Homo sapiens: one gene and its partner. The protein of the gene in region 1 purifies or fractionates together with the protein of each later gene. This does not show direct contact. Each region holds a gene or a part of one and is shown on either strand. Other genes may lie near its edges.

Evidence for each region. The genes of interacting proteins can lie anywhere in the genome.
Region 2: the proteins of UCP1 (region 1) and GSTM1 purify together in Homo sapiens (affinity purification with mass spectrometry, with the first as the bait; one large-scale study listed by BioGRID). This does not show direct contact.

Annotation. Positions count from the first base shown.
Region 1 is NC_000004.12:140,566,162-140,570,295, forward strand, and holds the start of UCP1 (mitochondrial brown fat uncoupling protein 1), read right to left. Parts: upstream 2,801-4,134; 5' UTR 2,569-2,800; coding exon 2,443-2,568; intron 1,817-2,442; coding exon 1,618-1,816; intron 1-1,617.
Region 2 is NC_000001.11:109,686,326-109,690,616, reverse strand, and holds the start of GSTM1 (glutathione S-transferase Mu 1), read right to left. Parts: upstream 2,801-4,291; 5' UTR 2,744-2,800; coding exon 2,708-2,743; intron 2,501-2,707; exon of another isoform or gene 2,448-2,500; coding exon 2,372-2,447; intron 1,945-2,371; coding exon 1,880-1,944; intron 1,570-1,879; coding exon 1,488-1,569; intron 1,393-1,487; coding exon 1,292-1,392; intron 347-1,291; coding exon 251-346; intron 164-250; coding exon 53-163; intron 1-52. UniProt on the Homo sapiens protein: Conjugation of reduced glutathione to a wide number of exogenous and endogenous hydrophobic electrophiles. Involved in the formation of glutathione conjugates of both prostaglandin A2 (PGA2) and prostaglandin J2 (PGJ2).

The sequences.
Region 1 (4,134 bases):
TGAGAATGTATCCCCATCGTTAAGTGAAGTAGGACTGTATTGTAATACAGCATGTATCATGGAATATAGTCATCTATTCACTTCTCCCCACACAACCCATACTCTCAACTGTAAGCTCTGTCTAGAGACACATCTGCCATCTAAACATCTAACATAGTTACTGGCACATGGCAGTTCAATAAAGCCTACTAAATAAACTGAATCTATATAACATAGAACACTGCCAACATATATCCTATTAATTTGGTGCCCAAAGTCCACAACAATTGGTAGAACAGTCAATCTGTGAAGAAAACCACCTGAACGGGCAGCTTTACCTCCTTTGTGTTTCCTCTCTTGCTACATCTATAAATAAAAAAATGCAGTTTTGATCTAGTAACATCCAGACTTTATCTTCACTTTGAAAGTACTTGTGTGGATAAGTATAACTTATATATTTGTATAGACAACATTTATAAATTATCCCATAAAATTATAGTATTGAAGGTTACTCACAGCAGAAATGATGAAATCTACAAGGTGGATTTCACTTAATGTATTCATTGTGCCATCAGCACATCTTCTCTCTGGCTTGTCTACTCCACATGAAAGTGCCTCTGATGTTGATTAGCTGTGTGATTTTGTGCATGTTACTTAACTACCCTGATATTCGGCTAACACTTTTTACTCACAGCAGTGTTGTGCGGTTTGAATGATGGGCAGAATCATATGAGAAGTGCAGAAGGCAGTAGAGAACAGGGTTAGGAGCCTGGAGTCCGAGGCCAGACTGCCTGGGTTTGAACCCTGGCTCTGCCCCCTCCCAGCTGTGTGACCTTGGGCAAGTGATGAATCTGCTCTGTGTTCAGTTTTCCCATCTGCCAAGGGATAATGGTACTAATACCCTTCCAGTTATAATGTATCTGAAGCACTTAGAACAATGTCTGGTTCATAGTTAAGCCCTCAAATAAATGCTACCTAAAGTGACAGGAATTCTTAGAGTGCACTGGCACTCAGGAAATATGTTTCCTTTTCTTTTTCCCCTAAACAAACTCCCTGCAGCATTCGTCCACTTTTTCTGCTCTGGTCTTTCCTGGACCTGATGAGGAACCTCTTAAGAGGAAATATGTCTTTTCCTGTCCTTTCAACTCTCTTCACAAAGTCTGGCTTTCTTTGCTTCAAACAGAAGGCTTTGAACTTTGTTGCATACACAAATGATGAGGGAAGCTTGTGGAAAGACACTCTGGTCTCTAGCCTGAGGATTCAGACTCAGAGGACCATGGTAGTCCTCGTTTGGATTTCTGACAAGCTCCATAGATGTTTCTGATATACTTCCCTCTTTGGAGAACTTTAAGTTAAACATTTTTCTGTAGCCCACCCATATTCTCCAGATGGAGATCCAAACTGGGCACAAAACTTCCATGACTGGGTGACCTTTACAAGTATATATCTGCATCTAAAAAATCGATTTTGCATACTTTTTTCTATGAACAATGAGCTAATGTTTGGGGAAGGGAGAGTTCAAATATGAATGTTTTCTCGCCAATTTGTTATGAAAACCACTCCTCTGTGTGTTACACTTTTTGGAACAGAGCGGAGCCCAAGGCTTTTCTGCCCCTCCCAGGAACGCTCACGGCTTACTTTCTTTCCCTGCGGTGAGGAACTCCTGGACCGTGTCGTAGAGGCCGATCCTGAGAGAGGCGGAGCTGATTTGCCGCTGAAGCCCCGCAGGCAGCCCGCTGTAGAGTTTCATCCGCCCTTCTGTTTTTACCACAGCGGTGATTGTTCCCAGGACACCTTTATACCTAATAACACTGGACGTCGGGCATTCACCTTGGACCTGGAAATAAGAAAGGTGCAGAACAGAAGGGAGCGAAATTGAGTTCACTCTTAAGCCAAGATTTCCCCCTGTGTTCCTATTTTCCGTTTCTTTTCTCAGCAACATTCCTCTTCCATCCACCTCCCTCTACCGTGTGTGTGTGTGTGTGTGTGTGTGTGTGTGTGTGTGTGTGTGTGTGTTCGCTCACGCGCAGATGGAGGGAGGCTGGCTACAATGCACATTTTGAATATCCCCCTCCCCAGGAACTCTCCAGAACCCCTAGGGCAGTAGGATAGGACAGAACCCCCGAAGAATCAAAGAAAGGAAAAAGCACCTGACTAGTAAACTCAGGAGAGGCCAATATTCTCAGCTCTTAAAATACTAAGTGCACCCTAAATTTTGGGAGAATTTGGTAGTAGTCATGGTCAACCCATTCTCTGTGGCCCTGGTGGTTCTTCAGCTAATCCCAGAAAAAGTTCCAGTTTCCCATCCTAAAGCACCAGCCCTGGGACAAGGCCAGACTGCTTTGGAAGGTCACCTACCCTACCTAGAAACAGTGGTTACACCAAAGCAGAGAATAAATGGAATGCACGCAACAGCGTCCCCTCTGTCCTGAGACCCCTTGTCTTACCCCTCTGCCTAGCTACCTGGAGCCGGACTTTGGCCGTGTCCAGCGGGAAGGTGATCACGTCCGCCAAGCACGCCGCTATTCCAGCTGAGAAGAGCTGGACCCCCAGGGTCGGGTGTACGTCCGAGGCTGTCAGGCCCCCCATCTTCACTCAGAGACTGGAGATGCAGAGGAAAAGGGCTCCAGCCCCGAAGGTGGAGGAAGTTCCTTTCCCTTGCTCTTCACGCCTGTCCGCCGGGCAGCAAACCCGATTTCTGTTTTTTGAACCGACCGCCGGGCAGCGGCGGTGCAGAGGCGGCGGCTGCAGACGGAGCGCGGTGTTGGGGGCCGAGTCCCCGCGTCCCCTCCTACCCACCCTCGCGCCAGCAGGACCCTCTGCGTTCCGGTCTTCCGCTGGGACTTATATAGCTGGGCCGCTCCCGGGCTGGGCCGCGCGAGGTCTCAGAAGACCCGGGCGTGGGACCTGCCGGGGGCGTGTCCGGGAGCACCGGGTCCCTCCCATTCCCATTCTCGCTCGGTGCCTCGGGAGCCCTGCTTCGCTCCCCGAAAGCCCTGGGCCGGCCGCTGGTTGTCTGCGCCCCGCACACCGCACGTCGGAGGGAGGGCGCACCGCGGCGGTCAGCACCCGCGCCCCCGCACGTGCCTCACCTTCTGTCACCCTTTGGCTGCACACCTTCGGCTGGGGCTTTCGGAAACCAGCACGATATCAGAGCCTTGGTGAAAGGTTCTGCCTAGCTGGAGCTCTCCCAGAAGGAAGAGCGGGGCACTCTTCCATTCCTCCAACTCCCCAGACATCTTGCAGGCACCTTGCGGCCTTCTCTGCTTCCCTTTCCTCTCCTTTAAACTTCTCATCCTCCTTCCTCCGGATTCCTTCTCTTCCCACTACCAAATTCAGACTTGGAAGAATCCCACACAGGAACCAAGAGCACTCTGAACTTGTCAAAAAGAGCGTTTCGTTTCATCACTTTTTGAGAGAAGATGTCAAACGAGACAATAGACACACTAGAAAGCAAATAGTACATTGCTAAAGCACCGTACAAAATGAGATACCACCTGTTCCTTCTAATTAGATTTCTTAGAGGGTGCAGTGGAAAGGACAGGGCAGGTTGCTTGGCTCCAGGTGCAGCTCTCCAGCTTACCAACTCTGTGAACCTGGGAAAGTCATCTGTACTCCAGCTTTTATTTTCAACAGTGTAAAATGTGGTTCCAGAGCTAGCCCAGGTCTGAAATCTCCCTGCTAACTTACCTATAATGATGTAATATGTGTTGGTTGTGTGGCCTTTCCTAGTTCGATCTTTGTGCAAATTTTATTTTCAATGTTTATTCTTGTGAAAACTTAAGAAAACAAAAAACTTTTAAAAAAAACAGTGGGAAATAATAGGAAACTGGAGAAAGAGGGAAATGGACAAGGTCAGGTCCCAGCTTTCAGAACCTCTCAGTTAAGCCAAAGATGGATTTGATATTACCAGAATCCACGTCCAGCTATTTAGGGCCTCTGGTACTCAACCCTGACTTAAGCCCCCCAAAAGAGTCAGTGGAAGTCAGAGTCATCTCCTCCAGGAGCAGGAGAAATAAGACATGAATAAAGAATAATCTCCAAACCCTCTATAAGTAAAGGTTGTGTACTGTGCAAGAAGCCAGTCCTAAGGCACTTCCAAGGGAGGTCAGGCTTGCAGAGCTTCCCTGAAAAAGGCAATGTTGACCTGACGGG
Region 2 (4,291 bases), on another chromosome or scaffold:
AGGAGGTAACGGAACAAGGGGCATCAAAGAGAAAGGAGGATGGGGGCATCACCTCAAAGCGGGAGATGAAGTCCTTCAGATTTGGGAAGGCGTCCAAGCACTTGGGCTCAAATATACGGTGGAGGTCAAGGACATCATAGACGAGAAAATCTACAAAAGTGATCTGCAGAAGGCCAAGAATATGTGGGCTGGAACCTCCATAACACGTGAAGCAAAACAGATCTCATTCCCCATATCACTCCTCCTTTACCTTGTTTCCTGCAAACCATGGCCGCTTCCCCAGAAACTCTGAGTAGAGCTTTAGCTTTTCAGGGAGTTCCTCCAAGTACTTTGGCTTCAGTTTCTCCTGAGGCAGAAAACAGCTGTCACCACCCTCGGACAAAAGCTCCCTGCACAGACGTGGCCTCCCCGGGGCTGTGGACGGCCCAGGCTGGCCATGGGCAAGCAGCCATCTTCCCCAAGCTGGAACTGGGGCAGTGCCCAGGCTTCAATTGGATACATCAGCATTTATTAGACTCTGACTGAGTGCCAGACCCTATCTAAACTGATCAGAAGGCAGAGAGGAATGAGATGCTGTCCCTGAATCTGTCCTCACTGACCTCCCAATAGCCTCTGGGTCAGCCCCAGGAGCGCCCAAGCACCTGGCAGCCTCTGGATCCAGACCAGCAGAATCAAGGATGCAAAGAACTAAGGGAGCTCAGGGAAAGTAGAAAGTTCCTTCTAATGGGGTGGCAGAAGAAAACAATGAACATTGACTAGTTTCCAGGGAGATGAGAAGTTCAAGTTGAAAGGAAGGAGGGAGAGGAATAAAGGCCCTCTGACTGCCTCTGAGCTGTCTGTTATGAAAATGCGCAGATCCCTGTGCATGTCAATGACAGCACTCAGAAAACTGTTGAGGAGAAGATGCAATTCGAGGGTGCCATTACATTCCTGAGTCTTCTACTTGAGTCTGCATATTCTAGGAGCAGGCAGGTGATGTGAACTGGCTGACAGAAATGACCCAGGACAGAAGTCAGAGGCCAGAGCTGATGAAGGAGATTCTGAACACAAACTTTACCATACAGGAACTGAATTTCTACCCTGGGATGCCTGGATCGTGTCCTAAGGTTGGTGGGAATTGCCTCTGCTTTTGTTGACATGACATTGGAGTCGTGAGAATAACTGCTGATAGTATGGGAAAGCACTTGGAGGATGAATGGTACCAGGGACTTAAGACCAGTGTGTGCAGGAATGCAAGAGTCCTGGCCCCAAATCCAAACTCTGTCAGATGCAGCTCACTGGGGACACTCACAAATTCTGGATTGTAGCAGATCATGCCCAGCTGCATATGGTTGTCCATGGTCTGGTTCTCCAAAATGTCCACACGAATCTTCTCCTCTTCTGTCTCCCCACCTGCCACCCACAAAACACAGACTCAATCTCAGCATCACAGCCCAGCCAAGGAGGAGGCCACCTTCCCCCCACACATTGCAGCCACCCACACTCACACAGGTTGTGCTTGCGGGCAATGTAGCACAAGATGGCGTTGCTCTGGGTGATCTTGTGAGCCCCATCAATCAAGTAGGGCAGCTGGATGGATGGGAAACCGGCGAAGCTCAGTTGGGCCACCAGGCTCCCCAGCATCCCCTTCCCATAAGCAAGAGCAGAGAGGAGACCGGGCACTCACTGTGCCTGCTCATGGCAGGACTGAAATAAGAATACTGTCACATGAACGAATGCAGGTGGACACAGAACATCATGGAAGGACTGTTTAGACAGCCAGGAGTGAGAGGAATTGGGCAGAAGACTCCTGATCTTAACACCTCTAAGCTGGGGAGAGGAGATGCAGTCAGAGACACGTTGCACTTTCCCCCAAAACCGCCCCTTCCCCTGCACCTACATTGGGAAAGTCCAGGCCCAGCTTGAATTTTTCATTCAGCCACTGGCTTCTGTCATAATCAGGAGCTGTGGTGGGGAAGAAGAAGTGAAAACAAACCTCCCCAGAGCCCAGCCCTCCTTCCCGGGGACCCTCCCACGGAGCCAGTGGCAAGATCCCTGAGACAGGTGGATCTAGAATCTGACCACTCAGTCCCACATCCCAGGGTTCAGGGACAAAGAATCCCGCTGAGGGCTCTGGACCCCACACAGCTAAGGCTTCCAGGGTTTAGGCAAGCCCTGAGGGACACCCGTCCCAATTAGACAGGGGGCCCAGCATCCCACCCCAGCATTCTGCCTTGCAAGGCCAGAGGGCTCCCTCACCGGGGCTCAGGGAAGAGACAGCCTGCAGCTCCAGCAGGGGAGGCCTGCAGAGGCAGCCACAGGTGGCCACCATGGGTTGCTTGGTGCCAACTTAGCGTGAGTGGGCAGAGCCCGAACACGAGGGTGCCATTACCGTCCCCCATCGTGTACTTCTTTTCCTCATAGCTTGAGTCTGTGTATTCCAGGAGCAGGCGGATGGCGTGGGCCAGCTGGGAGAGATGGCCCGCAGGTCGCGTCAGAGATGGAGGGTCCCTGACTTTGTCTGCACCAGGGAAGCCCCCAGTTTACACTGCACGTACCCGTTGCCTCCTCTACCCGCCCACACCCCCAACACACACACAGCGGCATGCACAGGCCCTTCTGAGGCGGGCAGCCCTGAAGAGGAACGGTCCCTAGAGTCCGTCCCGCAGCTGCTTCGCACTTCCCTCCCCTGCGCCCTCGTCCCACCGTCCAGCGGACCCTCGCTCACCCCGCGGATGTCCCAGTACCCCAGTATCATGGGCATGGTGCTGGTTGGTGCGGATTCCGCAGACAGGCCTAAACCGAGCAGGGCTCAGAGTATAAGAGCTCCGGAGAGGGGACAGGCGGGGCCTTGCTGCGACCCCGCCCCTCGGCCCGCCACAACCCGAAAGGCGCCATTCTGGAGGCCCGGGAGAGGGCGCCTGGGGCTGCACTCAGTAAGACTTCCTCCCGCCTCCCAGGCCCGAGGGTTCCGGGAGCGAAGTCAGGGCGCCCAGAAGCCCAAGGCGGGGCTCGGCCTCGCCAGCTTCCCTACCCAGCCCTGAGGCTCCACGAGTCCATCCAGCCCTTGCTAGGTCCACAGCGACTTGGCTGTGCGCTTGAGACACCAGCCAGATCCTAACGGAGCAAAGCTCTTCTCCCTTCTCCTCCCTGCCCGCGGTGTCCCTCAGCCTTCTCTCCGCTGCCGAGTTCCCAAGGGCTCTGGGAGACTCCGGCTGCAGGGGTCAGACTAAAAAGTGGTGGCCCCAACCTGGGAATTTAATTCAGCCCCTGTCACTGTAAGAGCAGGACTTCCTCTGATCCGAAAGCTACTCCCAGGGCTTAGTCTCCCCTCTAGCCCCGCCTACACAGGAACAGTGTCAGTGGTATAGGAAGGACCCCCAGGAAAAGGGCCAGAGTAAAGGAAATGTGGTCTGTGTTTTCTGTTAGGGGCCCTCGGGTACTGAGTCCTTCGGTCATCTGGCTAAGTACTGTGTAAATTAGCCACTTCGTATTTTGGCACAATTTATGAATCGAAATCCAAGGATCAGATCCAGCAAGTTGGTGAGGTATCTGAGGTGCCCCCTAGAAATGTCCAGCCAGTCCACTAGGTGAACCTCACAGAGACCGGAACAGCAACAGCAACAGTGAGTGCAGTGGCCACAGAGAGCAGGCGAGGGAGGATGGAAGAACTTCCCGGACCAAACTGAGGGTCCGGCTGCTATTTCTCTAGGCCCAATAACGAGATGCAGATCAAATGGGGAGGAAGAGAGGTTTTATTTCTGCAACCGGTAACAGGGAGAAGGCCTAGAAATTACCACCAGACCAACTCAATATTACAAAGTTTTCCAGAGCATATATACCTTCTAAGGTATATGTCTACAAGTAAGTGTGCATTCATCTAAAGACATAAGTGATTAACTTCTTTAATCTGTAACTGAGGTCTGGGTCCTGAGGACCTTATTCTGGAGCCTCAGTCTATTTATTTAATCTAAATGGGTCCAGGTGCGGGGGATGATTACCCTTATCTTGTCTCCTGCTAAATCACGGAGGTTTGGGGAGTTCCTTCAGACGCCCAATAAACTTGTTTGTGGAGGCCTGGGGAGTTTCTTCAGACTCACAATAAAACTTGTTTAATTCTAAATAGGTCCTGTTAAGAATTCCTTCATTGTTTTGTCATGCTTTAAGGCCCAGGAAAGGCCTAAGCAAAACTCTTGGTGGGCTTTTGTTACATCCAGCCTCTGTATAAAGGTACTGGCTTTTTTCAGCTTTTAATATTTAACTTCACCACTCAGTCAGTACTGAAACAGTTGTTATGGAGGCCTGTGTTAGT